Linked DNA regions of Homo sapiens. The protein of the gene in region 1 interacts with the protein of each later gene in a pairwise test. Each region holds a gene or a part of one and is shown in the gene's direction. Other genes may lie near its edges.

What was found.
Region 2: the proteins of CNR2 (region 1) and AGPAT4 interact in binary tests that used the Homo sapiens proteins (3 or more experiments, as listed by UniProt).
Region 3: the proteins of CNR2 (region 1) and FXYD3 interact in binary tests that used the Homo sapiens proteins (3 or more experiments, as listed by UniProt).
Region 4: the proteins of CNR2 (region 1) and RFT1 interact in binary tests that used the Homo sapiens proteins (3 or more experiments, as listed by UniProt).

What each region holds. Positions count from the first base shown.
Region 1 is NC_000001.11:23,909,772-23,917,615, reverse strand, and holds the start of CNR2 (cannabinoid receptor 2), read left to right. Parts: upstream 1-4,253; 5' UTR 4,254-4,370; intron 4,371-7,844. UniProt on the Homo sapiens protein: Heterotrimeric G protein-coupled receptor for endocannabinoid 2-arachidonoylglycerol mediating inhibition of adenylate cyclase. May function in inflammatory response, nociceptive transmission and bone homeostasis.
Region 2 is NC_000006.12:161,270,727-161,278,411, reverse strand, and holds the start of AGPAT4 (1-acyl-sn-glycerol-3-phosphate acyltransferase delta), read left to right. Parts: upstream 1-4,350; 5' UTR 4,351-4,474; intron 4,475-7,685. UniProt on the Homo sapiens protein: Converts 1-acyl-sn-glycerol-3-phosphate (lysophosphatidic acid or LPA) into 1,2-diacyl-sn-glycerol-3-phosphate (phosphatidic acid or PA) by incorporating an acyl moiety at the sn-2 position of the glycerol backbone.
Region 3 is NC_000019.10:35,118,626-35,125,429, forward strand, and holds the end of FXYD3 (FXYD domain-containing ion transport regulator 3 isoform 1 precursor), read left to right. Parts: intron 1-542; coding exon of another isoform or gene 543-626; intron 627-737; coding exon of another isoform or gene 738-751; coding exon 752-791; intron 792-2,452; coding exon 2,453-2,485; intron 2,486-2,596; coding exon 2,597-2,620; coding exon of another isoform or gene 2,621-2,709; exon of another isoform or gene 2,710-3,040; intron 3,041-4,052; coding exon of another isoform or gene 4,053-4,139; coding exon 4,140-4,214; coding exon of another isoform or gene 4,215-4,292; coding exon 4,293-4,329; coding exon of another isoform or gene 4,330-4,333; exon of another isoform or gene 4,334-4,578; intron 4,579-4,645; coding exon 4,646-4,683; intron 4,684-4,815; coding exon 4,816-4,832; 3' UTR 4,833-5,699; downstream 5,700-6,804. Other genes in the region: LGI4 (leucine-rich repeat LGI family member 4 precursor), read right to left, coding at 6,568-6,804. UniProt on the Homo sapiens protein: Associates with and regulates the activity of the sodium/potassium-transporting ATPase (NKA) which transports Na(+) out of the cell and K(+) into the cell.
Region 4 is NC_000003.12:53,127,189-53,135,826, reverse strand, and holds the start of RFT1 (man(5)GlcNAc(2)-PP-dolichol translocation protein RFT1), read left to right. Parts: upstream 1-5,391; 5' UTR 5,392-5,426; coding exon 5,427-5,489; intron 5,490-8,638.

The sequences.
Region 1 (7,844 bases):
TTTTGACAATTCTAAAAAATTAATTAATTTTAAAAGGAATACTGTATAGCAGGGTTTAAAAGGCAAAACATAACAACAGTTTTGGTGAAAATATGTTATCCCATATGATTGCAGACACATTTTGTTTTATTTTCCCAAGTTAATTCAGGGACCAACATTTACACTGAAAACTGAATAATCTTTTTTTTTTTTCTTTTCCTCCATCGCCCAAGCTGGAGTGCAGTGGTGCAGATCATGGCTCATTGCAGCCTTGACCTCCTGGGCTCACATGACCCTCCTGCCTCAGCCTCCTGAGTAGCTGTGAGTACAGGCATACATCACCATGCCCAGCTAATTTTTTATTTTTTGTAGAGACAGGGTCTCGCTATGTTGCCTGGGCTGGTCTCGAACTCCTGGGCTCAAGCAATCCTTCCTTCCTCCTCGGTCTCCCACAGGCCTGGGATTACGGACATGAGCCACCATGCCTGGCTTTGAACCATCTTAGGGTCAGTTGGTTCAGACAGTGCAAAGACTGCTTCCCTGTGGCCTGACAGGAAAAGTATACCTCTCGGGAATGTTCCTCCTCAGATCAGACCCTCAATATGACAGCACTCGGCCCCAGCATGGGGTAGATCCATCCTGTAGATGGCGGCATCTCACAGTACAAGGGCTGCTGAGGCCAGCTCTACCCAAGGAGCTGAGAAAACCGCCTCCTAAACCCTCACCTACAATTGCTCCTGGCCCTCCCAGGGCAAAAAGAGAACAGACTTCCCCTGTGGGCCCCATCAGCCCTGCCCAGGGGACTGAGAGATCATGGAGCTTCCTTATTGATTCTCTTGTCCAGTGCTGCCCATAGGGAGTCCAAGGACCGACAGCATCTGCTTCCCCTGGGAATTAGTTAGAAATGCAGATTCTTGGGCCCCATCCCAGAATACTGAATCAGAATCTCTGGGAGTGGGGCCCAGCAATCTGTGTTTTGGGGTTTTGTTTTTCAAGTCAAGGTTCTCTCTCTGTCACCCAGCCTGGAGTGCAGTAGCATAATCAGAGCTCACTATAACCTCAAACTCCTGAGTTCAGGCAAGACCTCCTCCCGCCTCAGCCTCCCAGAATGCTGGGATTACGGGCATGAGCCTCCTCACCCGGCCCCAATCTGTGTTTTAACAGGCCCTGTGGGTGACTTCCATGCACTCAGGCGTTTCAGGGGCACCTGTTATCTCCAACTTCCTCATTTTAGGAATGGAGAAATTGAGAACAGATACAGGAAGCAACTTGTTGGTCAGCCAGGCAATGGCAGAGACCACACAAAAACTCCGCTTCCCAGCGTTCCTTCCACTTGAACTTTCAGTAACTTCCTTTCTTTCTTCCTTCGTTCATTCATTCCTTCACTCATTCATGCCTTCCACCTCCAATTACATGCTTTGGGCTGCAATGGAGGACCAGGCGTTTGGGGACAGCCTCACCCTTCTTCCCCATGTGGGGCTTTCTCAAGGCCAGAGGTCTAGGATTCAGGATTGTGGAAGCATCTGCTAGATCTCTTCCAGCTCACCCCTGGGTCTCCAATTCCAGCCCAGATAGGAGTCTGATGTAGGCTGCAGGCGGGCCCCACTCCCCAGCTCCTTCTGGTCTTCTTTTCCTCTTTCTTGGCACCTGGGGCTCTCTGTCCCATTCCTCACTGCCAATGTCTTGCTCTTGGGAGAGATGCAAGGGCTGGAGGCTGTTACTGTTCCATTTCCCAAAGGGATGAATGATCAAATTAAAGGCCCTTCCCAGCAATGGCTTTGCGCTGAAGGAGCCAGGACTAGGTCCAGACCAGGGTTCGCAAGTTAGCATCTTGAGCTGGATAATTCCTTGCTGTAGGGCTGTCCTGTGCATTGCAGAATGGTTAGCAGCATTCCTGGCCTCTCCCTAGCAGATGTCAGTAGAATTCCTCCACCAGGTTGTGACAACCAAAAATGTCTCCAGATATTGCCAAGTGTCCCCTCTGGGTGGTGTTGCCAGATAAGACAGAGAATGCCTGGTTACATTCTTTTTTTTCTTTTTCTTTTTTCTTTTTTTTTTTTTTTTGAGACAGAGTCTCACTCTGGAGCCCAAGCTGGAGTGCAGTAAGGCGATCTCGGCTCCCTGCAACCTCCGCCTCTGTGGCTCAAGCATTTCTCATGCCTCAGCCTCCTGAGTAGCTGGGACTACAACTACGCACCACCACACCCAGCTAATTTTTTGTATTTTAGTAGAGATGAGGTTTCACCATGTTGCCCAGGGTGGTCTTGAACTCTTGATCTCAGGCAGTCCATCTGCCTCTGCCTCCCAAAGTGCTGGGATAACAGGCGTGAGCCACCACGCTAGGCTGAGCATTCTAATCGCACATAAGCAACAAGTAATTTTTAGTGCCTGAATGTCTCAACTATTGTTGCATTACCTCACATACTTATTTTTGTGGTGAGAACACTTAAAATCTACTCTCCATCATCTTCAAGAATATAATTCATTGGGCCAGGTGGGGTGGCTCATGCCTGTAACATTTTTTACTTGAAGAATCTTGCAACTCTACCTCAGGGGCAAAATCTTTCTTCATTGGCCCAGATCAGGGTCTGGGGTGTGGGGAGCAGTTAGTGAGAGGATCTGATGAGATAATCATAGGCCATGAGTTTACAAGGGCAAAAACTTTGCCATAATCATCTCTGTATCCTTAGAATATAATGGCGTCTCATTAAATATTTTATCTGAGAGTGGGTGTGAGGACACTTGGAACTATATCAGATACCATACCTGAGTACATCCAGCCCAGGACTGGACATTAGGGACATACTCCCTAATAAATATAAACTGAAGATAATGTTTAGTTTGACTCACATAGCATTTTTTAAAGGTGTGACTTTGGGCTTTACATTCTAAAATTGGCAACTGGCTGAGCATGGTGGCTCATGCCTGTAATCCCAACACTTTTGGAGACTGAGGCGGGAGGATTTGCTTGAGCCCAGGAGTTCAAAACCAAGCTAGGCAACATAGTGAGACCCCCATCTATACAAAAAAATTAAAAAAAAAAAATAGCCAGGTGTGGTGGCACATGCCTGTTCTGCCGGCTACCTGGAAGGCTGAGATGGGAGGATCACTGGAACCCAGGAATTTGAGGCTGCAGTGAACTATGATCGTGCCGCTGTACTCCAGCCTGGGCAACAGAGCGAGACCCTGCCTCAAAAAATTAAAATAAAATAAAATAAAGTAAAATAAAATAAACAGGAAGTGGCTGGGCGTGGTGACTCACCCTGTAATCCTAGCACTTTAGGAGGCCAAGGTGGGTGGATCACTTGAGGTCAGGAGTTCAAGACCAGCATGGTCAACATGGCAAAACCCTGTCTCTACTAAAACTACAAATTAGCTGGAGGTGGTTGTGTGCACCTGTAGTCCCAGCTACTCAGGAGGCTGAGGCAGGAGAGTTGCTTGAACCCAGGAGGCAGAGGTTGCAGTGAACCGAGATTGCGCCATTGCACTCCAGCCTGGGCAATAGAGCGAGACTTGGTCTCAAAACAAAAACAAACAAACAAAAAACAAAACACACACACACACACACACACAGGAAGCTATCACATAAGTCAAGATTTCTGGTATCTCTTGAAAAATACAGCACAACTTCCAAATGCTTGGAATATCTGACAATTTGCCTATACTCCCAAGCAGAAAAGCTTGGCTGGAACTAAGAGGTACCTGCCCCTCTCTACTGGCCCAGATCAGGGTCTGGGGTGTGGGGCAGATACCTCTCAGCTGGGCCAGTAGAGAGGGTCAGGTACCTCTCAGCTCCAGCCAAGCTTTTCCACTTGGGTCCTGTGTTCCCCCTATTACCCACAGTCCCTACCACTCCCTATTGCCCCACACCAGGATCCATCACCCATTATGTTAATCTGCCTGTAGGCATTTGCATTTCAAAGCTCTGGCCTAGTGGTGAAGAGGCATTGGAATGGCATGTCCTTTTAGGTGATCTACTGTAATGTTGGTGCATTATCCCCATTTTACAGATAAAGAAACTTGCCTTTGGGGAAGTTAAGTGAATCAACATTTTAACGAGGCTGTATTAGAACCCAAGTCCCTTGACTCCAGGGTCTAGGCCCATGCCCCACCCTGGCCAGAGTTCGTTGTAAGAGATAACTCAACCGCAGGGGCAAGAGCATTGTGGCACCAGGGACCTGGAGGGGAAGTGGTAACAGGCACGGAAGGCCAGACCTCCTCACACTCACTCATCTGTGAGAAAGTACAAAAGCAAGAGAAAGCTGGCTTGGGGTGGCACTCAACAGGTGCTCTGAGTGGCACCCACGGCCAGGTCCTGGGAGAGGACAGAAAACAACTGGGACTCCTCAGCCCCCGGCAGCTCCCAGTGCCCAGCCACCCACAACACAACCGTGAGTAGCTTTTTTTGTTGTTTATTTTAGGCTTCTTCCTCATTCCCCAACACCTGTATTCTTTTTTGTTTGTTTGTTTGTTTTTGAGACGGAGTTTTGCTCTGTTGACCAGGCTAAAGTACAGTGGCACAATCTCGGCTCAGTGCAGCCTCACAGGTTCAAGCGATTCTCCTGCCTCAGCCTCCCGTGTAGTTGGGATTACAGGTGTGCACTACTGCGTCTGGCTAATTTTTGTATTTTTAGTAGAGACAGGGTTTCACCATGTTGGCCAGGCTGGTCTCGAACTCCCGACTTCAGGTGATCTGCCCACCTTGGCCTCCCAAAGTGCTGGGATTACAGGCATGAGCCACTGCACCTGGCCAAAACCTGTATTCTTACCTTATCCCTTCCCTCCAGGGACACAAGAAGCCAGGTGGGCCTGTCTGGGGCAGGGGATAGATGTCATTTCAGGACACCTGGGGTTGTGGAGGACCAGTCGCAGGAAAGTTCAGGGCTGGCATCCCCCTCCTAGGACCAAGAATCAGGACTTTGGCTTTCATTTCATTACAGAGACAAGAATCACACACACAGAGATGGCCTTACTGTGTGCCAGGCGCTGCCCTAAGAGCCTTTAGTGGTTGGATTTATTTAATCCTCACAACAGCCGTATGCAGTAGGAGCTATCACTGTTGTCCACTTGATAGGTGGGGGCTAGGTGACCCACCTGAAATCATGCGGGCATTGAATGAGAGCATTGGCTTGAGCCTAGGCACTCCGGCTTCGCGGCCCACCCTTCAGCCACCAGGCTATCCTGCCTTACGAGGTGTGGACTGCAACAGTAGATGGGGGCCAGGAAATGACAGGGGCTGGCAGAGGCCTTTGAGATGACCAGGTGAGTCCTGCGCTCTCATTTTATAGATGGGGAGACCACAAGGTAGTGTTAGGGGCACACTGGACTCAGGAGGCCAGGGGTCTGCTTTGGTGTAAGTTCCACTCAGCGGAGGGAAGAGCAGTATTTTCCAGTGTGCCCTGGGGTCAGCGTCCAGGTCTGAATCCCAGCTCTGCCACTGGTAGCTCGATGGCCTAATGCAAATCACTCCATTTCTTTCCTGCTCAGCTTCCTCTTCTGAGAAACATGGGCCTGAGAAGGTCACTCACAGGCTTGTTGCGAGTCAACTGTCTGATGCGGGCACAGGGCGGGCAGCAGCACAGGGCTCGGGAATGGCTGTGGTGGAGAGTTTGATCTTCACCCCATCTGCTCTTGCTGTGGATCTGAGATGAGGATAAAATGAGGCCTGGCTGCTTTTCCCTGGAATGAGTGGCAAGTAGACACGTTGGCAGCATGAAAACCAGGATGGAGGCTGGGGAGAAGTTCAGGGAGAGCTCAGGAGGTGGAGTCCCAATAATCCTGGCCCCAGCTCTGTAACCACCTTGTGGCTTACCAGAGTGACCCCCTAACCTGCGCTGGGCAGGTGAAGCATATCCTTTACCCTTTGGCCGGCTAAGGCCAGGATAAGGCAGTGAAGACGGGAAAATGGCAGCCTGGCTCAGCCAAGCAGAGCCCTCCAGCGCCAGCCCCCTCTCTTCCCACCTCATTTTACAGTACCAGTCACTCTTACTGCACACCCTCGGGTGTGCATAAATTGATCTTTTCTTTATTCAGTTGAAGTCACATTCAATAGGACCCTGAGCCTCATCCTACTGGGCTAGGAGGAAATTTAATCTCCAAGTGCACTGAGCTTCCCTCACTCCCATCCCCACCCATGCACATTGACCCAGAGGACACACAGAACATAAGCGTGAGGGAGGCTCCTGGGTCCTCCTACGATGGATGCCCATTGCCCAAATGGACTTGATTGTCTGAAGTCCAGCCTTGCCCACTTCCCTGGCATGCCTGGAGTCCAGATTCTTTGTAAGACCTGAAACCACTGTGTCTCATTTTGACATCCAGGATATATCACCCAGTGACTTCCCCCAGAGGTCCTGCCATCTTCCCAGAAAGCAAATTCTAGGTGCCCAAGACCTCGGTCCCCTCCCAGCCAAGGACAATCTCTCCTCTCCCCTTGGCTGTGGATGGCAGATGGACACTCTTCTCTCCCCACCCCCCACCCACGTGACCTAACCTTCTCACTGCGCTCAGGTTCTCAGGAAAGGACAGGAAGAAGGGTTGTCTTCAAATAGCTTCTGCTTCCTACTCTCACCCCTGAAAAAAGTCCCCGAGCCACGAGACACAAAGGGCACTCTGAAAAGAGACAGGCAGCCCTATCTTACAGATGAGAAAAACCAAGACTCAGCAGCAGTGTTGACTTGCTCAGTGTCACACAGCCAAGGAATAGCGGAGCCAGTGTGAGCAGAGAGTCCTGCGCTGTGGGTTCAGAGCTTGTGCTATCAATCACATGGAATCACATGGAAACCCAAGTCTCCCTCATCAATTACTCAGGCAACCTGGGGCAAGTTACATCACCTTTCTGAACCTCAGTTTCTTCAACTCTAAAAATGACGCTATCATAGCATTCCCAACCTGCCTCAAAGGGGCTCTTGTTTTTTGTTTTTTGTTTTTTTGTTTTGTTTTCTTTTCTTTTCTTTCTTTTTTTTTTTTTTTTTTTTTTTTTGAGACAGCGTTTTGCTCTTGTTGCCCAGGCTGGAGTATAATGGCGTAATCTCAGCTCATTGCAACCTCTGCCTCCTGGGTTCAAGCGATTCTCCTGCCTCAGCCTCCCAAGTAGCTGGGATGACAGGCATGCACCACCACGCCCGGCTAATTTTGTATTTTTAGTAGGGATGGGGTTTCTGCATGTTGGCCAGGCTGGTCTCGAGCTCCCGATCTCAGGTGATCCGCTCTTGTTTTTTTCTTAAGCGAAGATTGATGAAGCATTTACTACACATTTGAGCTCTGTGACCGTTCCTCATTAAGTCCTCACCACAGCCTAGGAGGGGGCTGCTATCACTAACCACATTTGCAAGGTGAGAAACTGAAGCTCACACAAGCTTAAGACTTATCCAAGGGGCCGGGCATGGTGGCTCATACCTGTAAGCTTGGCACTTTGGGAGGCCCAGGCAGGAGGATAGCTTGAGCTCAGCACTTCAAGACCAGTCTAGGAAACATAGTGAGACCCTATCTCTACAAAAAAAAAAAAAAAAAAATTAAAAATTAGCCAGGCATGGTGGCACATGCCTGTGGTCCCAGCTACTCAGGGGGCTGAGGTGGAAGGATTGTTTAAGCCTGGGAGATTGAGGCTGCAGTGAGCTATTATTGCCTGGGTAACTGAGCAAGATACTGTTTCAAAAAAAAAAAAAAGAAGGAGAGAGACTTGTCCACAGTCCCATAACTGGTGGTAATGGCAAAGCTGAGACTCAAGTCCAGGTCAATCTGGATCCAGAACCAAGCCATATTGTGGTGGGAATCAAAATAGGAGAACGGGAGTGGAAATGCCTCTAGGTATGGAGATGCAGGGCAGGCTCGGGGACTCATGATCAGGGTTGTCTTTACTGTGT
Region 2 (7,685 bases), on another chromosome or scaffold:
GCACTTTCCCCAATGATATTAATGTTACACCTCTTTGATCGTACTTGAAATGATTGTAATAATAACGAGAGCCGTAAGAGTTTGTTGGTCATAAAAACATACAACATTTTAAGAACTTTATTGGGTTTTTATTGACATATATAACTATTAAATATAAGATTATAGACCCCAAATATCAAATTAACTTTAGCATTTACAATTTTCCTTTGTCTCCTCTAAGCAGCCACAATTTCCAATGTAGCACATAATGAGGTCATCATAGTTGCAAATCTATATCTTCATATTGTATAACTTGAGAACATTTTTAAACTCAGTGTATAGGTTTGTGTGGATGTTGTATCAATGTTCACAACACGAGGCAAGTGGAAATAAAGCAAAAATACTGTTAATGTGTAATAACATTGTGCTAACAGAATGGGCAATTTGTAACAATGCCATCAGTGACTCCACTATCTAGCACAACAGTTAATACATAGTGTGTAAGTTCACATTTCAGATAAGTGATAGTTATCATTTTAAGTACCAAAACTTAGGTTTAAAGAAGTTTCTGAGATATGCAGAATTCTACCTCTCACTGGGCTTTGAAAATATGTTACTCCTCAGGACTCACCGTGTCGTAAGCATCACTGATTATTGTTTATGTCTGTTCTAAATTGCAGAAACAGTTTCAGAAACCTAGGTTATTTGGTTTTTAGTCCTAATCTTGTTACTGTAAAAGTCACACGTGTTCATCCATTGTAGAAAGTTCTCCAAAGTGCAATCACATATAAAGAAGCAAATAAAAATCATCCTCAATCTCACTCTCCAGAAGTAATGATTATTAACAGTTTCATGATCTTCATCACACTGCATTAAGTTTCCCAGAGCTGCCATCACAAATTAGCACAAACTGTGTGACTTAAAACAACAGAAATTTATTCTCTTACAGTTCACGAGGCCAGGAATCTAAAATTAAGGCATCAGCAGGGTTGGGTCCTTCTGGAGGCTCTCAGAGAGTCTGTTCCATGCGTCTCTCCTGGTTTCTGGTGTTTGCCAGCAATCTTTGATTCATAGACACATCATTCCCATCTCTACCTCCGCCATCACATGGCCTTATTCTATGTGTGTGTCTTTCTGCATCCTCTCCTCTTTTTATAAGGACACCAGGTATTGGGTCTATAGCCCATCCTAATCCAGAATGACTTCGTCTCAGCTGATTAACATCTGCAAAGACTCTGTTTCTAAACAAATTCATATTGTGAGGTTCTGGGTGAACATGAATTTGTGGGGGACACTGGGGGACACTTATTCAACCCACTACACACACTGTAATATATATTTATAGAATCACGAAAACGGGACCATAATTTATATAAAGCTTAGTTCCCTTTACACTTAAGATACCATGAATTTCCCTAGGTCTTTCAAACACAGAATTTTAATTTTTTGTAGAGTGTTTCATCATATGAAGATTACATCATTTCCATAGCTAACCTGCTACTTCAAACACTCAGATGGTTTCCAGACTTTACTATTATAAATGGCTCTGATGAATATACATGTTCCCAAATCTTTGAATTTATCTCTGCTTATGTCCTTGGTATAAATTATTCTGAGTCGAATTATTGGATTAAGGGGTATGAACATTTTAAAGGCTCATGAAAAATCTTCTTTAATTGAATTCCAGAGATTGTATCAATTTGCCATCACCAGCAGAAGAGAGAACCCATGGCATTGCATTCTCTGCACTGCACGTTCTAGCTTTTTGAGTGTTGGACAAGTGACTAGGCAAAGAAATAACATCCTTACTTTGTGACTTGTATTTTTATGTAAGGTTGCCTCTTTGTTTACGGACCACTTATATATCTTTTTTAGGTTACCAATTTATGATTTGTGTCTCCTTTTCAATTTTTTTCTCCTCTCTCCAACTGCCAGTATTTATTTCTTACCATCTCACGGATGAGTATACTGTCCACCTCCACCCCTTTTAGAGTCCACTGTTAGCTAAGAAACTATGTAGATGTATCCTCCCTCTCCTTTTCCCATTCTCGAACCACCTCTGAATCTTGTACAAATGTCAATCATTGCCTCCATTGTGTCTTAACTGTTTACATTTCGCTTTCCCTTCTAAGACTTTGAGCACTTTGGGGCCATTTCCATGTCTTATCTGTGTTTTTGTATCTTCAGCAACTAACATGGATGCTCAATAAACATACATTGAACTGAGTTGTTACGTTGTGACCTGGAAATATTCACAATTCCTTGTATAGATAGAAATAGCTAAATAAGGGCACATAAGGATAGACTCTAAATGGCACTCAATAATGTGCATAGGGCTGGGCGTGGTGACTCCCTGCCTGTAATCACAGCACTTTGGGAGGTGGAGGTGGATCACCTGAGGTCAGGAGTTAGAGACCAGCCTGGGCAACATGGTGAAACTTCGTCTCAACCAAAAACACAAAAAATCAGCTGGGTGTGGTAGTGTATGTCTGTAATCCCAGCTATTTGGGAGGCTGCAGCACGAGAATTGCTTGAACACAGGAGGTGGAGGTTGCAGTGAGCTGAGATCGTATCATTGCACTCCAGCCTGGGCAACAGAGCAAGACTCTGTCTCAAAAAAAAAAGCATAGGATTTAATCCATGAATTTTGAATTTCTATGTTAAATTTTTAGAAATAGTAACTTTTTCTCCCATATTTCTCAGCTATATCTGAGATAACTGGGACTGAGCAACATTGTCTAGACAGGCAAAGTGTTAGCAATAATAAGTATAATAATAATTGTAATGTAATAATGGAATGAGGATGTTAAAGTACTGAGATCAGGATAAAAGTTACAATTGTCCAAATTTTAAATTTCCTATCATTTCCACTGAAATCACTGACTGTACTTATAACATTATCAGGAATTTATGCAATTTGTAGGTTTTGAAATAAATTACCATTCAGAATTCAACCGTGAAAAACAGTGTAACTCTACTTGAAAAACACTTTGAAAAACTCAAGTTTCCACCAAATCTAGAAGCACATGGGTCGTAAAACATAGTTCGAAAAGTTACGAGAGATGATGACTACAAGGAACTTTTTATAAAAATCTTTTATAAGCATTACTCTGTGGTCAAATTTATTTTCACATGGATATTAAAACAAGTTATTGCTACAAATGGGTTTCTGTTCTGATCCTTTTTTTGTTTGCCTCACATATCCTTTCTCTTCCACCACATTCTGCTTCACTCTCCCCGTCTCTCATCACAGACAAGAAAAATGCCACCTCCCATAGGACCCACTCCAAACCCTGTTTCCTGAATGATCAATGCCTTCCCCCATCGCAATCAAAAAAGCACTTTCTATTCTGTCTTCATGACACACTGGTTTTGACACTTGCATAGCTGTTAGTAATTCTGCAATGTGCTTGGGCTATTTGTGAGCACATGTATTTTTCCTTTATAGATTATAAACATCTAAAGAACAAGGTTAACCCAGGAGTCAAGTAAATAGTTAAATATTATTTTGACAATGGCTGTAATAGTGGACATTTGAAAGGAATACACCTCAGTATTTTGAAATTGAAATAATTTTCTAGATCCTGGCATTTCTGGACTTTCAACAGCCCACCCTTTTTAAAAATTGTGAAGACACTTTTACTATAAAGGTCTGCCCAGACCCTCTCTGATACACCTGTGTAAATGCCACGTGCATGTGAGCATGCGACAGTACGTGTGTGCACGCCTGTGCAGTGGTAATCAACCATGGTGCTAAGGTTTGAAAACAGAAAATACATCAATCGACCTCCAAGCTTCTTTCATCCCACTTCATAACATCTCAATCTCTTGAGTGCTGAGGCTTATTTTGTTTAAGATGATTTGGACTCTTCTGAGTGCAACGCAATCTCCTTCCAGCACAGCGGACCGAGGAGAGGTGAGGGGAGAGTTTTGAGGGTGGGCATATTGATCCTACGCTTGCTGAATTAAAAATGAGCCAACTGAGGACAATTTCCAGGTTGCAACACAGACGGAGCCGGAGTCTGGGTTGAGGTTAGAGGAGCCGTTAGGGCGCAGGGATGCAACAGGATTTGGGAGAAAGGGGAGAGAAAGCAAGGCCACTTCCAGGGGGCTTTCATTTTTTTTTTATCCTGGCAGCTTCCCGAGCCAGATTTCAAAAGCGATTTCAAACGTGAAGCCAACTGAAGCACTGCCTTACACTAATTGGAAGGGGAAGGGAGTGACTCATATTACACCAGCTCGCTCTTCCCTCTCGGCAACTGCTAACTTGTAGCTTTAAAAGGAAGTGACATGGGTGGGGAGAGACGTCAGCTGAGGACCACTTTTTTTTTTTTTTTCTTCCTGAAGGGTCCACCCCATGGGTGGAGTCTCGCTTTTTCTTTCCAGTGTTGGCTGACTTACAGCTCTTATAAACTAGTGGCAATTTCTGAACCCAGCCGGCTCCATCTCAGCTTCTGGTTTCTAAGTCCATGTGCCAAAGGCTGCCAGGAAGGAGGTATGTGGTCCTGGTGCCGTTCGCAGGCACCTTCCCCGCTGGGTGTGGCTGATGTTTGCATTCCTCTTCCCAGCATATTTTTCTCTCCTGGGCTGGATTTCCTTAGGACCTCTGGAAGGGGTAGGCTCCGGGGGCGGGGGGGGAGTGCAAGGCGGGCGGGGGAAAGGTGCAGGGGGCGCCTGGAGGGAGGCGAAGAGAGGCTCTGCTGGTACAAAAGGACCCTCGCTTTGTGCTGGGCCGGGTGAGCGTCCCTTTCTGGGCTGTGATTTCAAGCTGCTGTTCCTGGCTTCATTTACCCACCCACCCAGCCCCCTCCCGGGGCTAAAGCATTTTCTCTGCTATAGACGAAGCTGGGCGGGGGGTGGTGGTGGGGGGAATGTTCCTATTACATATTGCTCTCTTTTGTGTCATGCAACATGTTCTTCCGTCGCTGACGTTTCTATGGCAACCACAAAAATACTACACAATATGCAGCCCCGATATACATTGATTTATTTGTATTTTGTGTCTAGTTTGCAGCTTTCTGCTCTGCTTCTTGCTTTGGTTTGCTAAAATCCAGCATGGCTTGTGGCTACCCCTCCTCACTTTCATTTTGGTTTTTCCCTATCACAGGAGGGGTGGGGGAGGGGAGTTGTCAAGGAAACAGGCATTGGTAATTACCTCTCTATTTACCTAATTTTCGGCCTATGAATTTCTCCATATCGAGGAATTAAAAAAAGAATGCTTTGATGTTTATGTAAGTCTTCAGTGTCTGGTCTTTTTTTAGAAAACCTAAACACTTCTTAAGATAAGATATTGATCCTGTGGTCAAGCTAAGGGGGAATTAATTCCTTACAGGAGGTGAGATCATTGAAATAAAGTTTTAGAGAGCATTGGAGAATTCGCACTGATAAATGTGATATTGCCTGCCCAGGTTTGCCTAAAAGCTTAAATATTTAAAAGATGGGTCTTTGCTCTCATCTGCACTTATTTAGCTCCAAATCTTAAGTTCAACAAGTATGAGTAACAAATTAACTGCCGGGCAGGATTCTCCGTTTTTCGTTTTCGTGCATTGTTCTTAGATGGATTAGCCACGCTATTCACTCTCTTCAAGGTGAGGGTTGCTAGACTTTTTCAAAACTGTGGAAGGATTAACTCATCTGTGATTAGTCAACGACTCTCAGTTGGAAAAAAAGTATCTTGAGAGAAGGGAGAATGTGTGTGTTTGTGTGTGTGTGTGTGTGTGTGTGTGTTTAGGGAAATGGGAGGCGGGCAGGGAGAACAGGGCACATCTTGAGTTCTACGTTAAAAGGATTCCATCTTCTGAATATTCTCTATGGGGAGAAAAACTGTTATTCAGAAAAAATATGAAATGAGAAAATTATTATCTACTTAGTAATAAGCAAAGTTAATTATAATTAGAATCAAATAACACATCTCTTAGAAAGACATAGCCTCTTAACAGGTACCGGCTAAACTGATGCTTTTATTCAGTACGTCTAAGGAAGCGTTTGATAAGGGATACCATTCTTCTGATGGGCATCCCAAATAATTAGCTTTTATAAAATAGATAAGTAGTAATCCCATTCATGACTCTTAAAATTATCTATAATTTAAGATAAACATGTGTGAAGGTCACTTAGCCCTCATACCTTCCGGCTGCTAAAGCCAAAATCATTACTTATAAACCTTGAGCAACCCTGCCATGTGGAAGCAGGAAGAATGGGTGGTTTCAGTGAGGTTCTGTTTGCTGTGATCCTTATCTAAATATGCTATCATCTATGTCTTATCAAATCTGCTATAAATCCAGAGGTCCTAAGTAATTCAGGTAGAAAAGTTACCTGAAAATGGGGCAAAATAGCATGGCACAAAACAAACCAGAGCCACATGGAGTTAAAGACGAGAACTATTTAAAGGGCATAACACACAGAAAAGTATTACTAAAAAGAATATGACACTCATTTTGAAAAGCACATGTTAGTACACAGAGAAACGGTTGGATTGTGAGCATCTGATGTTTGCAAAGAATTCTGAAAAGCAGCCAGGCTGAAATTACTGTTTTTCCTGTCTGAAAATGGTCCTCAAGGGCAGATTTGCCACATGACCTTCCAAAGCAGATTGACAGCATGTAAATCAAAGTCTGCGATGTCGGTTCTCTTGAGTTTCCAGATTCAAAATTTCACAGCAAAAAGCCTAATGGAATAGAACTGAAAGGAAAAAGAGCAAGACTTCCTCAGAAGCACAGCCAAAACAAAAACAACAAAAAACCCAAACCCAATAAACAAACAAAACACTGTCTGATATTCAGATGCTGAGTAGAGGTTAAAGCAGTTAGCAGCTTTGGCCTAGGGAAGGTAAGTGGAGCTGTGAGTATAAAGTAAACGTAGGGTCCCATGGAAGAGGCTGACAGAGGTGACACCCAGAGGGTGAGTCAGCCGTCATTTTATTGGGATTTTACTGTCTGCAAGGCTCTGCTGTGAAGTTGGTGAAGAAGGCAGCAGTTGTAGTCTGTGCTCTCAAGCTTAAAATCCACCAAACGGGTGGCGAAAAGAAGAGCAGAGCACCCAGCTGGAAGGAAGGGGGAGGCAACAGCCAGTCAAGGAGACGCAATTAGTATGAGAAGAATACTAGAGAGTCTTCATCCTGCTGCTGAAGCTTTATAGGAGAGGAGGCAGACGGTTCAAGGGAAGAAGGAGAGGGTGTCTTAGATAGCAAAGGTGGATGGTAAGAAATGGATCATGGTTCAGGGTTCTTAACTCCAAGAAGGGAGAAGTCAGTCTTTAGTATAGAAGTAGAGCAGGTATACTCTGTGCTGGTTGAAAGCATAAGTAGATGTAAATTGGGGACAGAAGTTTTTCTTAATCAGAAAAAGAAGGACTGTTAGAAGACTGAACAGAAGGCAGAATCCTTCCTAATCCAATACTTTTTTAGCTTCAGCTTAACAACGAAAGGCCAGACTTACACTAGACTTTAAACAGGTATGAAACTGGGGAAGACGCAACCAGGAACTTACCCGGAATGTCATCTTCATAATTCCTGCCATTGCCATTGTTTTAAATTATTGGATGCTCAAATGAGGGTTTGGTAAATGTCACACGTTTTGTGCAGTCTCCTTTATTCTGGAAAGGAGGTCTGATGGTTATGGGACAAAGCCGCATTCACATTTATTTTTTTTTTGAGATGAAGTCTTGCTCTGTCGCCCAGGCTGGAGTGCAATGGCGTGATCTCGGCT
Region 3 (6,804 bases), on another chromosome or scaffold:
CCCGGCTAGGCAGAGCCAGGGCTGGGACCGGGAAGGGCATGGGTGTGGGATGAGGGGCAGGAGGTTCGGGGGAACAGAGATGGAGCTAGGGCTGCAGCCAGGAGGTAGAGTCCCCCTCTACCCCCAGTCCCAGCCTCACGTCAATTCCTCCACACACCACCCCACCCCCAAGCAGCTTGAAGAACCTGCTCAGTCCTCAGCCTGAAGTCTGCAATGTCCTGGCAGGGCCGGGCAGGCTCTGAGCGGTCTACGGAGACACTCCTGGGAAGCGGGCCTCCTGCCGCCTGGCTCCCAATGCCCCGCTTCCCCAAACACCCCAAGGCCCTGACAGTCCCTAGTTAGGAGCAGCTGCTGGGGAGCCAGGCCTGGCTTAAATCCTACTTCCTGGCTAGAGCACCTAGTTTCACCTCTCAGAGCCTCAGTCTCCCCATCTGTCCAGTGAGGACAACAGCGGGCAGTGGCGCCCTTGTTTGGTTGCGGGGCGATTCCCAGAAAGCCTGAAGTCCATGTCCAGTGAGTTATTATGGCTCCTCCCGCCTCAGGCCCGAGTTTCACCCAGTCCCCACTCCACGGTGCAGCTGCGGCTTATCTCTCAGCCCAGCGAGATGCCAGCCTTCCTGTCCCGGGTGAGCTGCGCACCCTGCCTGGGGAGCAGGGGAGGAGGGTTGGGGAGCCACAGGCACAGGGCCAGCCTCCCGGTGGCTCTGCTAAGGCCAGACCTCCCGCCACCCCTCTAGGCCAGCGCTCTGACATGCAGAAGGTGACCCTGGGCCTGCTTGTGTTCCTGGCAGGTGAGTACCCATCCCCCGTCTGCCTTTTCCTCTGGATCCCCTGGATGCGGGGATCCAACCTCTGTCTCTCTCCTGTGCTTTTCTACCTCCCCGGGAAGGTGGTAAATGTTAGAACAGCATCTCCCTGAGGGTAAGAAAAGTCAGACTAGTGATAGCCGGGGATACACGAGAAGAGCTGGCTCACACAGCTGGAAAGTCACCGTCTTCCCCATTCTCTCGATCTCTTCTTTTTTTTTGGCTTTTTTTGTTTTTGTTTTTGTTTTTGTTTTTGTTTTTGAAAGGGAGTCTCTGTTGCTCAGGCTGGAGTGCAATGGCGCAATCACAGTTCACTACAGCCTTGAACTCCTGGGGTCAAGCGATCCTACTCTCTTAGCCTCCTACACAGCTAGAATGCCAGGCACACGCCACCATGCCCAGTGCATTTTTGATTTTTTGCAGAGACGAGGTCTCACTGTGTTGCCCAAGCTGGTCTCAAACTCCTGGCTGAGTTTGATCCTCCCACCTCAGCCTTCCAAAGTGCTGGGATTACAGGCATGAGCCACACTGCACTGGCCTTGATTGACTATTAAACAGAAATAACGGAAGCTAGAGAAGATGATGAAATGACACCTTCAAAGCACTGAAAGAAGATAACTGCCCTGCCAGTTCTCTAAAAACTTCAAGTAGAAGGCTCAGCTCAGTGCGACTGCATCTTTAACTTCCAAACACTTTTCCCTTTTTTCTTTTCTTTTTTTTTTTTCGGAGACAGAGTCTCGCTCTGTTGCCCAGGCTGGAGTGCAGTGGCATGATCTCGGCTCACTGCAACCTCCACCTCCCAGGTTCAAGCGACTCTCCTGCCTCAGCCTCCCAAGTAGCTGGCATTACAGGCGTGTGCTGCCATGCCTGGCTAACTTTTGTATTTTTAGAAGAGACAAGGTTTCACCATATTGGCCAGGCTGGTCTCGAACTCCTGACCTCAAGTGATCCTCCTGCCTCGGCCTTCCAAAGTTTTGGGATTACAGGCCTAAGCCACTGTGCCCAGCCCGCTTTTTACTTTTTCACTGCAGCCTTGACCTCCCAGGCTCAAGAGATCCTTCCACGTCAGCCTCCCAAAGCTCTGGGATTACAGGCACACTTTTTGTCCATTACATAGGGCAAGACCAGTATTCCCTGCAGGGTAGTGATCTAAAATTACATTTTCAATAAAGTCTATTTAAGTGTATAATAGTGAGTCATTTTCAATGATGTGCAAACACCAGACCAGGTGGGTGTGGACATGGTGGAAGCGGGAGGATGGGCTTTGAGCATGATTGGACTTGGGGAAACAGGAATCTGGGAACTGAAACCATCTGTCGTCTTGACCAGAAAAGTCCCCCGCTGCTGCAGGAGGCATGGATTAACCACGTGTCTGGAAACATGAGACCAAATAGTGGCTAAAAACCTCCTAGATTAGAACCCATTTCAGGTGGCAGAATGCTGGCGTGACTCGGAGGTGTGGGGCTGAGTGGGCGAGTCCACATTTCCTCGTTGGGATATGAGGGGATGAGGTGGCTGCTCAGTGACAGGACCCCTGTCCCGCAGGAGACCCTTTCCCAAGGCCCCTGAAACTCCCCAGGCCCTGCCCAAAGGCTTGGCTGAGGCCGGCATCACCATCTCCCCTCCTTCCCCTCTTCTCCCACTAGGCTTTCCTGTCCTGGACGCCAATGACCTAGAAGGTGAGTCAGACTGGACTCTCACCCGTCACACCCCCAAATTCTCCCCTGGGTGGGGAAGGCCTGCATCCTGGCTGTAATCCTGGATTCATGATCTTTTTTCTTTCCTTGCAGATAAAAACAGTCCTTTCTACTATGGTGAGAGCCCGTGCCCCCTTTCCCCTCCCCACAACCCCACATACTGCTTGGTGCCAAGGGTTCCCATACAGGGTTGGGGCCTGACGTGAGCATCACAGGACAAAGATACGAAGGGACTAGGATGGGGTTACTGAATATGCCACACAGTGGATTAAAGGAACTAGAGGCAGCAACCTGGCCTTTGGGAAGGTTCTATTCCAGCAAGATAGACACACGCAGGAGGTGAGGACAGTTTGCAAGAAGCCATTGGTTGGTTCAGATCAACTGCTGGGAGAAGTGTTGACTTGAGAAAACTTCCTGGAGGTGGTGAGCTATTGGATCAAAACCCTCATCTGGCCTCCAGGTTCCAATGACCTGCTCCCTACTCCCCGCTCTGCCCTCACCTCTCCACGCTCCTCATTCCTTCTGCTCCAAGCCTCTCAGACACAGCAGACATACTGCCAGCCTCAGACCTCTGCACCTGCTGGTTCCTCTGCCTGGAACACTTCCTTCCACAGAACCACATGGCTCCCTCCCTTCCCTCTGCTCAAATGCAGCCCCCTGAGAGGCCTTCCCTGACAACTCCCTCTAAAAGAGCTGCCATCTGACTTTTTTTTTGTTTTAGAGACAGCGTCTCACACTGTTGCCCAAGCTGGAGTGCTGTGGTGTAATCATAGCTCACTGCAGCCTCAAACTCCTGGTCTCAAGCGATCCTCCTGCCTCAGCCTCCTGAATAGCTGGGACTGCAGGCATACACCACCATGCCTGGCTAATTTTTGTATACTTTGTAGAGATGGGTTCTCACTATGTTGCTCAAGCTGGTCTAGAACTCCTGAACTCCTGAAGTCCCAAAGCACTGGGATTATATTAGGTTGGTTCAAAAGTAATTGTGGTTTTTGCAACTGCTTTTAATGGCAAAAATGCAATTTTTTTTTTTTGAGGCAGAATTTTGCTCTTTCACCCAGAGTGTGACTGGCTGGAGTGCAATGGTGCAATCTTGGCTCACTGCAACCTCTGCCTCCCGGGTTCAAATGATTCTCCAGCCTCAGCCTGCTGAGTAGCTGGGATTACAGGCGCCTACCACCATGCCTGGCTAATTTTTGTATTTTTAGTAAAGACGGGGTTTCACCATGTTGGCCAGGCTGGTCTGGAACTCCTGACCTCAGGTGATCCGCCCACCTTGGCCTCCCAAAGTGCTGGGATATCAGGCGTGAGCCACCATGTCTAGCCAAAAACGCAATCACTTTTGCTCCAACCTAATAGGTGTCAGCCACTATGCCCAGCCCGCCCTCTGACTTTCCATCTCCCACCCCACTTATTTTTCTTCAAACCACTTATCTCTGCCTGACCCTGCACGACAGATCGTGTTTGCTGGTGTGTGAACCAGAATGTGAGCACCTGGGATTTTGTCTGTTTTCTTATGGCGGTGTCCCCAGCACCCTGTGCATCCTAGGTGCTCCATATATATTTGTCAAGAGAATGGGGGGACAGATGGAGAGGACACAGGCTGGCACTGAGGTCCCCTCCACTTTCCTCCTAGACTGGCACAGCCTCCAGGTTGGCGGGCTCATCTGCGCTGGGGTTCTGTGCGCCATGGGCATCATCATCGTCATGAGTGAGTGGAGGAGCTCGGGGGAGCAGGCGGGCCGGGGCTGGGGCTCCCCTCCCCTGACCACTCAGCTCTCCCCAACAGGTGCAAAATGCAAATGCAAGTTTGGCCAGAAGTCCGGGTAAGATACTGTTCCGGCATGCCCGCCTCAGGCTGACTGGACGCTTTTCAGGGTGAAAGGGCTAACTCTCCCAGCAGGAGAGGCCTCGGGGCTCTGCCCTTTAGAGTTCCTGCCGCTAAGATTTCCAGGTTTATTGTTTCTAGCTGGTAATCCCCAGGGGGCCCCAAATCCTGAAATGCTTTGGCCCCTGGGATTGCACAACCCCCCAAATGGAAAGGCAGCCAGGAAGACATGTCTGGGCAGGCTAAGAACCCTCTATCCGGAGGGAGAGGGCAAATGGGGGCGGACACCAATCTCACCACTTTTGTCTCCTTAGTCACCATCCAGGGGAGACTCCACCTCTCATCACCCCAGGTAAGATGGGGCAGCATGGGGCTCAGGGGAACACGGAAGTGGTGTGTGTGTGTGTGTGTATGTGTGTGTTTGCACACTGGAAAGAAAAGAACTCAATCCACCCTCACAAACGGACCCCATCACTTCCCGCAGGCTCAGCCCAAAGCTGATGAGGACAGACCAGCTGAAATTGGGTGGAGGACCGTTCTCTGTCCCCAGGTCCTGTCTCTGCACAGAAACTTGAACTCCAGGATGGAATTCTTCCTCCTCTGCTGGGACTCCTTTGCATGGCAGGGCCTCATCTCACCTCTCGCAAGAGGGTCTCTTTGTTCAATTTTTTTTAATCTAAAATGATTGTGCCTCTGCCCAAGCAGCCTGGAGACTTCCTATGTGTGCATTGGGGTGGGGCTTGGGGCACCATGAGAAGGTTGGCGTGCCCTGGAGGCTGACACAGAGGCTGGCACTGAGCCTGCTTGTTGGGAAAAGCCCACAGGCCTGTTCCCTTGTGGCTTGGGACATGGCACAGGCCCGCCCTCTGCCTCCTCAGCCATGGGAACCTCATATGCAATTTGGGATTTACTAGTAGCCAAAAGGAATGAAAGAGAGCTCTAACCAGATGGAACACTGGAACATTCCAGTGGACCCTGGACCATTCCAGGAAAACTGGGACATAGGATCGTCCCGCTATGATGGAAGTGTTCAGACAGTTTATAATAGTAAGCCCCTGTGACCCTCTCACTTACCCCGAGACCTCACTTTATTACAAGATCTTTCCAAATACCCAAATGTCCCTGCAAGCCCGTTAAATAATTCCCTATGCTACCCTTAATAACATACAATGACCACATAGTGTGAGAACTTCCAACAAGCCTCAAAGTCCCTTGAGACTCCCCAATACCTAATAAGGCATGCGAAATGTTCTCATGAACTACCCCACAACACGCCTAAAACTCAAAACACCCAAAAATATCTCCTCCAATGTCCTGAAACATGAACCCAAAAAGAGACCCACAATAAACTCGTGACTTGTCCCCTCATCATGCCGTTTTATCCCTCAAACATCCCCTGAGTCCCTCCATAACCACGAACCCACACTCAGAGACCATGAACTGCGGAAACGCCTCCCTGGGACCTGGGCCGCTCCGAGCACTGCTCCAGGGACACCATCCCCGCCCTGTGCCGTTCACAGGACATCCTCTCCCAAGGATCCACAACACTGGGCGGGGAGGGTGCACAGCGCATTTATTGAGCTCGGACTCGTCTTGTCCTTGCCTCCGTCGCCCATCTAGAAGGGCACCAGGCTCCCCGCGACACCTCCCGCTGTCCCTCCCTGTGCCCCGGCGCACGCGCAAGAGGCGCAAAAGGCACAGCTTGCTGGGCGGCCGCACGCATGCGCACAAGCAGCAGAGGGGAACCCGCCCAGTGCTGAGTTGTCTTCGAGGTTGGCGCTCCTCCAGGAAAGCGATTGGCTGCGTGGAGTTTAGAATGGGAAAGGAATGCCATCAACCCCTCGGTGCTTTCAGAGGGACCAGCGGGGTAGGAGCGGGTTGAGAGGGGGGCTCCGGGACCTCATGGAGCTCTGCACGTGACCTCCACCTCGACTCCATGCAGTGCACCAGCCTGCACCCCCCAGGTTGCCTTTGATGGGGAATCTGCCCCAGCCGAGATGTCCAGATGTTGCTTTAGACCTGAAGGGCAGCTCGGGAGGTCCAGTAGGCTGGGACCCTCTATGTCCCCCCATGGGTGCAGATCCTTTAAGAAGTGGGCTTAAGGCCTAGACGTGTGGCTGATGAACGTGGCCCACGGTCAGCAGCTCACAGGCGGGCCATCACCCCAAGTAGGGCCAGGAGCCAGCCAAGGGGCCGTCCAGGGGCCCCAGCCATGCCCAGAGTCCCGTTGGTGGTCTCAGGCACTGAGGTCGATCTCGTGATGCTGGTAGATCTGTGTGGGGCCCTTAAAGCAAGCAGCAAAGAGGAAGCGTCTGCCGGCCATAGTGATGTGGGCAAAGGCACGGGGGGCCACCAGGGCCGGAGGCCCCAGCTCCTGCAGTGGCTCCAGGAGCCCCTTGTCAGGCTCAAGGCGGAGGACCTGGCTGAAGGCGAAGTCGCTGCCTAGGATGGCCAGCTGGTCCCTGGCGATGAG
Region 4 (8,638 bases), on another chromosome or scaffold:
AGAGACTTTTCTAGCTCACTGAAGGAGGCAGCTTTTCCAAGGTGCCTGAAGATCCCACCTCAGGCAGTGCTTCTGAGAGCCTAGATCATTGTATCAGAAGCCCCCAGAGGCTGGGCATGGTGGCTGGCCAGGCACAGTGGCTCATGCCTGTAATCCCGGCACTTTGGGAGGCCAAGGCAGGTGGGTCACTTGGGGTCAGAATTCAAGACCACCAGCCTGACCAACATGGTGAAAACCTGTCTCTACCAAAAATACAAAATTATCTGGGGGTGGTGGCGCGCACCTGTAATCCCAGCTACTTGGGAGGCTGAGGCAGGAGAATCACTTGAACCTGGGAGGCGGAGGTTGCAGTGAGCTGAGATCACACCATTGCACTCCAGCCTGGGCAACAAGAGCGAAACTCTGTCTTAAAAAAAAAAAAGGAAGAAGGAGAAGGAGAAAACAAAGAAAAAGAAGAAGCCCCCAGAGTGTTGGTAAATGCAGATTCCTGAGCCTACCCCAGAATTGCTGAGGTGGAGCCCAGGAATCAGCATTAACAATAAACCCTCTGGGTTAGGTCTGGTTAAGGGACTGAAAGCCACACTGCCCAGTTCAAATTTTGGCACTACCATTCACTAGTACTTAGGCAAGTCCCTTAACTTTGTCAAGCCTCAGTTTCTTGGCCTGTAAAATGGGGATAATAATGGTGCCTACATTGTAGGGCTGCTATGGGAATTAAATGAGATCATGAAAGTGAGGTGTCCAGCACAGTGCTTACTTAGACAGATGTGGACGACTAGTATCACAGCTGCATTATCATGCCCTGGGACTTTTGAGAGAGGCAGAGCCTTGAGAGAGGCAGAGCCTTGAGGTCCTGCTTCTGGAAGGGGCCCTGATGGAGGTGCTCTGGGACGCAGAAGCCTTGGCCAGGCAGCGCCCTCACCCAGGACGATCTGCCACCTAGTGGCTGGTGTGTGGGACCATGCCCAGTTCTCCTGCCTCCACCTAGCTGAGATCCATGGCCCAGCTGGCCAGAGGTTCCACCCTGTCTCCTGGCCCACTAGCAGCCTCCCTCCCTGCTCCTCTGCCCTAGGAGCCTAATTGGCTTGGCACCAGCTCTGGCACTTCCCTCCAGCTTTGTAATAAAATAGGTGGCTTGGGTCAGATTTCCCTGGCAGGGAGGCTACCTGGCACAGACGCAGGAGGCGGGGAGGAAGGCTGGGGAAAACGGCTCCTTCAATGACCACCAGTTACAGCCTGGTATTCTCAAGGGGCCACTTCCTCTCCAAGAGGACCAAGAGTACAAGAGCCCTATGTACTTGTCTTTCTTCCTTTCCTAGTCCTTCATCATTCATTTATTCCAATGCACTTACACATGCATTCATTCATTCAATATTGAAATGTTTACTATATCCCAGGTGCTCAATGGTGATCACCAGGAATTGGCAAAGTTTTTCTGTAAAGGGCCATCTAGCAAATATTTTCAGCTTTGTGGACCAACCTATTCTGCTGTTGTAGCAAGAAAGTAGCTATTGATAATATGTAAACAAACGGGTACGTGTGCTATGTTCCAATGAAACATTATTTGTGGACACTGAATTTTTTTTTTTTTTTTGAGACAAGAGTCTCACCCTGTTGCCCAGGCTGGAGTGCAGTGGCATGATCATAGCTCACTGCAGCCTTGATCTCTCCAAACTCAAATGATCCTCCCACCTCAGCCTCCTCAGTAGTTGGGTCTACAGGCACGCACCACCATGCCTGGCTAATTTTTGTATTTTTTTGTAGAGATGGAGTTTCACCATGTTGCCCAAGCTGGTCTTGAGCTCCTGACCTCAAGCAATCCACTCACCTTGGCCTCCCAAAGTGCTGGGATAACAGCCGTGAGCCACTGTACCTGGTGGACACTGAAATTTGAATTTTATACCATTTTCATGTGTCATGAAATATTCTTTTGATTTTTTTCCAACCATTTACAAATGTAAAAACTATTCTTAGCTTGTAGGCCATACAAAATGCAACGTCCAGTGGGCCATTACTTGCCAGCCCTGAGCTGAGTCCTCCATGGGCAAGACCATGGAGTATGCAACTCCCAGTGGAGCGTGCAGGCCAGTATCTCCAACAGGGTCAAGACCTTCAGAGATCCTCACTGGGGAGAGGGAATGCCTCCAAGCCTACCACAGCTCGACTGCTGCAGCCCTCCCAGACTCCACTCTCTCAATGCCACATATGTTCTCTGTGGCTTACATATAGGGACTCTTAGGTCTCCTTTACAATCAGAAGCTTTTTTTGAAGGGAGGAACATTACTGTTCACGCATTTGGAATCAGAAGGGACCCGAGTTCAAATACCTCCTTGACCATTCCTTTGCTGAATGACCTTGGATGAGTTACGTCACATCCCTGTGCTTCAGTTTCCTGATCTGCAGTCCCTCTCTCATAGGTTATTGACAGGATGGAGTACACGCATGTAGAGTGCTCAGACAGGTGCCTGACATGGAGTCAGTGGTCAATGTTTGTGGATTCTCCTCACAGTTCCTTTTTCCCCACCCACCCCAGAACCCAGCACGGCTCTGGGCTCTGCTCAGTCCCTCCTTGCCAAGTGTTAACTTCCAGAATAAGAGAAAAAGTCCCTGGATTCCTCACCCAGGAGCCCCACAGAGTCCATACCTTGGGGTCCTAGAATGCTTTGCCCTTTAGACTTAGCTTGGAGCATTTCCCCTTTGACTTCTTTGCTCCTAGCAAAATGATCACTTCTTCCCTCCCAAAGCAGCTTACATGGATGCCAGGCTTAGGAGTGTGTGCACATGATGAACTCTTGGCTGGTTCTACTCTGGGGATGAGCTGTAGAGGAGGAGACTGCTTGGCTGGGAATAAAGGAAGTGGGAGGCTGTCTCACCTGCTGGCCCACAGTCCAGGGGGGTGGGAAGGCTGCCCAGGTCAAGGTCTTTAGCATCTCAGCCATTATGCCAAATACCTGGACCCTCCAGCACTTTCTCTATTCTCCAAGTACACTCCTCCCCAGGTGGGTGCCCAACTCACTCATCCTAAAACAGCACCCCTCTCTCTCTTCCAAAGCCTCTAGGATCTTACCTGGTTTCATTCTTTCGTAGCACTTAGCCCTATGTGAAATTTTATTTGTTTGTTAGAGTTTTTTTCAGTTTCCCTTTCACTAGAATTTAAGCTCTCTGAGGGCCAGACTTGCCTGAAACAATCCTTATGACTATTTTTACAGGACAGATAATATCCCTATTTAGTAGCTGAGCATACTGAGGTCACCCAGTCAGTGAGTGGCAGAATGAGGATTCAAGGTCAGTTCTCTCTGACAGACAAAAGCTCACATTCTTGGGCAGGGTGCAGTGCGGTGGCTCATGCCTGTAATCTCGGCACTTTGAGAAGCTGAGGTGGGCGGATCACTTGAGTCCAGGAGTTGGAGACCAGCCTGAGCAACGTGGGAAAAACCCATCTCTACAAAAATCACAGAAAAAATCAGCCAGGTCTGGTGCTGCACGCCTGTAGTCCCAGCTAATCGGAAGGCTGAGGTGGGAGGATTACCTGAGGCCAGGAGGTGGAAGCGGCAGTGAACCAAGACTGTACCACTGCACCCTAGCCTGGGAGACAGAGCGAGACCCTGTCTCAAAAAAAAAAAAGAAAAGAAAAGAAAAGAAAAGAAAAGAAAAAGAAAAGCTCACATTCTGGGCCTCCACACTAAGACAGAGCTCATTTCACCTGGGAAGATGGGAGTGATAGGCTTTGAGTTCCACAGTCTGTTTCCAGCAGCAGTAGCAGCAGTCATGTGTCAGGAGACATTTATAGGAGCCCTAAGAATGTTCTGTACCGCTACTTCAGGAAGCAAAACCAGGCAGGCTGCACTTCTGCCCTCTTGGAGCTCATGGGCTGATTATATAGAGACACATATTCTAGTCTTTCTGCTATAATGCAGATTGCATTAGGAACTATAAAGGGGTACAGAGTATTTTAGGGGTACTGTCTTGATTTGCTTGGGCTGCTGTAACAAAATACCATAGACTGGGTAAGTCAAAAACAGAAATTTCTCTCACAGCTCTGGAGGCTGGAAGCCCAAGATCAAGGTGCTAGCCAGTTTGGTTCCTGTTAAGTGTATGTTGGGCGCCTTACATTTTACAAAGCCTTCTTCGTGGTTGCAGACAGCTACATTCTTGCTGTATCCTCAAATAGTAAACACAGAGATCATTTTTCTGACATCTCTTTTTATAAGGACATGAATCCCATTATGACGGCTCCACTTTCAGGACCTAATTACTTCCCAAAGGCCTTACCTCCTAATACTATCACACTGGGGATTAGGCTTCAACATATGAATTTTGAGGGTACACAAACATTTAGTCCACAGCAGGTACCAGCTGTGGTTGGCCAGGAAAGTCAGGACAGTGTGGTCTAGGAGGGCAAGGGGTGCTGTCAGGGAAGACACTTTGGACAAAGAGGGTGGAGGAGCAAAGGCCAGTGAGTCACCGCCTGTTTGAGGACCAGTAAGGACTCGGAATGGCTATGGCCTAGATAGTGTTGGGAAGGGCAATGATCGTGTGAAAGGTAGTAGAAGATAGGTTGGGGCCAAATCATGTGAGGACTGAAAGAGATTGGGGAAAGACTGGGCTTCCTACAGCCTGCTTGGTAGATAATAAGAACACTGACAGAACAGCAGCTGATTGTGTATGTTGGGCGCTTTACATTTTTTTACAAAGCACTTCCAGTCCTTCTTCCACTCTGCCCTCACAATTTCTAGCATACAGGCAAGAGTGATAAGTTTAGGATCAGGAGCCTGGTATCCACTTAGTCAGGAAACAAGTTGTGTAGATTCGAACAAGTCACTTCCCATCTCCAAGGCTTTACTCATCTCTAACCACAGGGGCCAATTCTCAGAGCTTTCGGAAGGATTTCACAAAACCATACACATAACAGTGCTATATCTAACTTCTGGTCCTCAGTTCTTTCTCTGTTAAATGAGGACAATTCCTGTCCAGCCTAATTCAGAGGGTCTGTGGCTGTGATTCTGTAAGCAAAGGTCAATGGTGAGAATCTTCTTAACGGGCCAGTGAGAAGTTTGTTCCCCTTTTGGCAGATGAGGCCAGGAAAGTTAGTGCTTCTTGGTTGGTGGCTGAAAGCCTCAGAGAAGGAACTTTGGATTCTTTAACGGTATCTCTTAGTACTCGCCACACTATTTCGTTTATACGGGGAAGAGAGGGACAGACAGCGCACAAGCGACAGACAGCGCAAAACCTACCGAAATAGAAAGAGCCAGGCGCCATAACAGACGGCCCGAGACAGGCCCACTTAAAGGACCAGAACTTCTCGTGCCCCGCCCCCCTCTCTCAAGGCCATCAATCAGACAGCGAGGCGCGCCGTGACGCCATCTTATCGCGACTAAACGGAGTGGCGGCGGCATTTCCTGGTGTCTGAGCCTGGCGCGGAGGCTATGGGCAGCCAGGAGGTGCTGGGCCACGCGGCCCGGCTGGCCTCCTCCGGTCTCCTCCTGCAGGTACTCTCTGCCCTTCAGGTTCCAGCTTGTACTGCAGCCGGGATTCGCGGGATGGCAGCCCTTGGGCCCTTGAGAGCCTGCCCCAGGGCCGACCCAGTCCCGAGGTGGACCCCGCAATGGAGGGGGTGGGGGGGTCGACCGGAGACGGTGGCATTGATGAGGGGGGACCCTGGCCCGGAGATAGGAGCCTGCCTTTAGAGTCTAGGCCGGGTGACTGCAGACAAGCCGCTTTCCTTCTGAGCATTCTATTTCCCATATGGCAGTAGGAGTGAATTAGATCAGGTGGCGGGGGTGAGGGACTGGTATTTCGTGCTCGAGAATCTGATATTTTTCAGGCAAGGGGTTCATTTCCTTCATCAAACACCTTCCTCAAACTTTGAGTCCCACTGAGTTCCGAGAGTCCATATGGCATAGCTAAGAAGAGAAATCTGGAGTTAGGCTTGGATTGCTCCGTGACCCAGGACAAGTGACTTCACCTGCAGAGCCTGAGTTCCTCACTAGTAAAATGGGGGTAATAATATGTCGTACTTAGCTCATAAGCAGGGATTGATTGGGATCATTCAAATAAACGTACTTAACACAGTACCCGGCTCTTAGTATGCATTTAATACATGTTGGCTGCATCTTCTGTTTATGTGATCTTGGACAAGTCACTTCCCTTCTTGGCCCTAATTTTTGTCATCTGTCAGGTATGATACAGGCCAGTTAGTCCAAATGGTATCTGAAGATTCTTTCAACCCCAGGAGCTGAACCTCTTAAGTCAAGTGGCTCAGTATCTCTCTGTCTCACTCTTGAGCCAATCAACCCTACTTCACACAAGTCCCGAATCTACCCTACCCCTTATCTTAGAGAGGCACATGGAGGGCAGAAGAAAGAACCAAGCAGAATGGGGCTTGAGTTTGGGCCTTGTCACTTGCTAGATGCCTGCCTTCGGGATAAATCCGATGACTTCTGTATCAGTTTCTTCATCTTAAATGAGAATCATAGTGCAACCTCACAGGGTCATTAGGAAGATTAGATGAAATCATGCCTCTTAAGTGCCTGGCACACTACAAGTACTTAATAAATGTAGCTATTTTTATTAGGGTAATAAGTATTTTTAAAATAGTCAATGTAGGAATGAAATGAGATAACCTATGGAAAGCATGTTGAAGAGTGCCTTGCACGTGATATGTGCTTAGTAAATGTTAGCCATTCTAAGTTTACCTAGGGATTTTTTTTTTCTGTTTCACTACATAAATAACTGAGTTTATTGTTTTATCCACAATGTTGGTTTTTTTTCAGCCTTTGATAATATCTTACTACTCAGATAGGCTTCATAAAACGAAAACAAGTTATAACGGAAAACACACTGGACTACGAGTCAGGTGGCTTACCTGTAAGGTCAAGCTGGGTCATTTACTTGCCGTGTGACAGTGAGGAAATCACTTAACCCTCAGTCTTGCTTCCTGTGCATTTACCTCGTTGTTTTTAGTGTCAAATAATTTAACAGATGTGAGAGAGCCTTTTTGTTAAAACTGTAAAGTTGGCTGGACGCGGTGGCTCATGCCTGTCATCCCAGCACTTTGGGAGGCCAAGGCAGGAGGATTGCTTGAGCTCAGGAGTTGAAGACCAGCCTGGGCAACATGGTGAAACCTTGTCTTTACAAAAAATACAAAAATTAGATGGGCGTGGTGGCATGCACCTGTAGTCCCAGCTACTCAGGAGGCTGAGGTGGGATGATCTCGAGTCTGTGAGGTTGAGGCCTCAGTGAGCTGTGATTATGCCACTGCACTCCAGCCTGAGCAACAGAGTGAGACCCTGTCTTAAAACAAAAGCTGTAAAGTTCTTTGCAGAAGTAAATGAAGGCTGTGTTGCTAATAAGGACTGCAGTGTGTGGCAAATACTGGGTGGCGTAAGCAACCTCAGTTTCATTAGCTGCAACCTTTATTCAAACCAATTAGGAGACATGGATATGGCCTGGAACATTAAGTTTCTTAGACAGTGGTAACTTTGAGGTTAACATAAGTATGTACACATGGTGTTTTGTTTTTTGTTTTCGAGATGGAGTCTCACTCTGTTGCTCAGGCTGGAGTGCAGTGGCACTATCTCGGCTCACTGCAACATCCGCCTCCCGGGCCCAAGAGATTCTCAGGCCTCAGCCTCCCAAGTAGCTGGGATTACAGGTACCTGCCACCACACCTGGCTAATTTTTGTATTTTTAGTAGAGACAGGGTTTCACCATGTTGGACAGGCTGGTCTCGAACTTCTGACCTCAAGTGATCCACCTGCCTCAGCCTCCCGAAGTGCTGGCATTACAGGTGTGAGCTACCGCGCTCGGATTTTTTTTTTAATAACCATATTTTTATATGGTTTCTTGAGTGTTTTCATTCTTGTATGCTTTCTCGAATTACACTGTAGACACTTCAGGTAGCTTTGTGGTTACATTTTATTCTGCAAGAATTTGAGAGCTTGTTCTATCTTAATTCTAAGCCACCTATGCTGAAAGTATTAATGCCTTTCATTTGTATGCACTTAAAAAATGCTTTCACTTCTACAGTCTCATTTCTTTTAAAAATATTTCTTGTAGAGATGAGGTCTCACTGTGTTGCCCAGGCTGGTCTCAAATTCCTGGCTTCAAGTGATCCTCCTACCTTTCAGCCTCCCAAAGTGTTGGGATTTTCTTTTCTTTTTTTTTTTTTTTTTAAGATGGAGTCTAGCTCTGTCGCCCAGGCTTCACGCCATTCTCCTGCCTCAGCCTCCCGAGTAGCTGGGACTTACAGGCACCTGCCACCACACCCAGCTAATTTTTTGTATTTTTAGGAGAGGCGGGGTTTCACCGTGTGAGGCAGGATGGTCTCGATCTCCTGACCTCATGATCCGCCAGCCTCGGCCTTCCAAAGTGCTGGGATTACAGGCATGAGCCACTGCGCCCAGCTAAGTATTGGGATTACAGGCATGAGCCACTGTACCCAGCCCTACAATCTCTTTTGATCCTTTTAATCAACCCTATGTGATAGGTAAACTCATTTGACCGAGGAAATTGAGGCTTATAACAATTAGAAGATAACAGATAGAAGAGCTAAATGGTGAATTGTATTTTTAGTAGAGACGGCATTTCACCATGTTAGTCAGGCAGGTCTCGAACTCCTGACCTCAGTTGATCCACC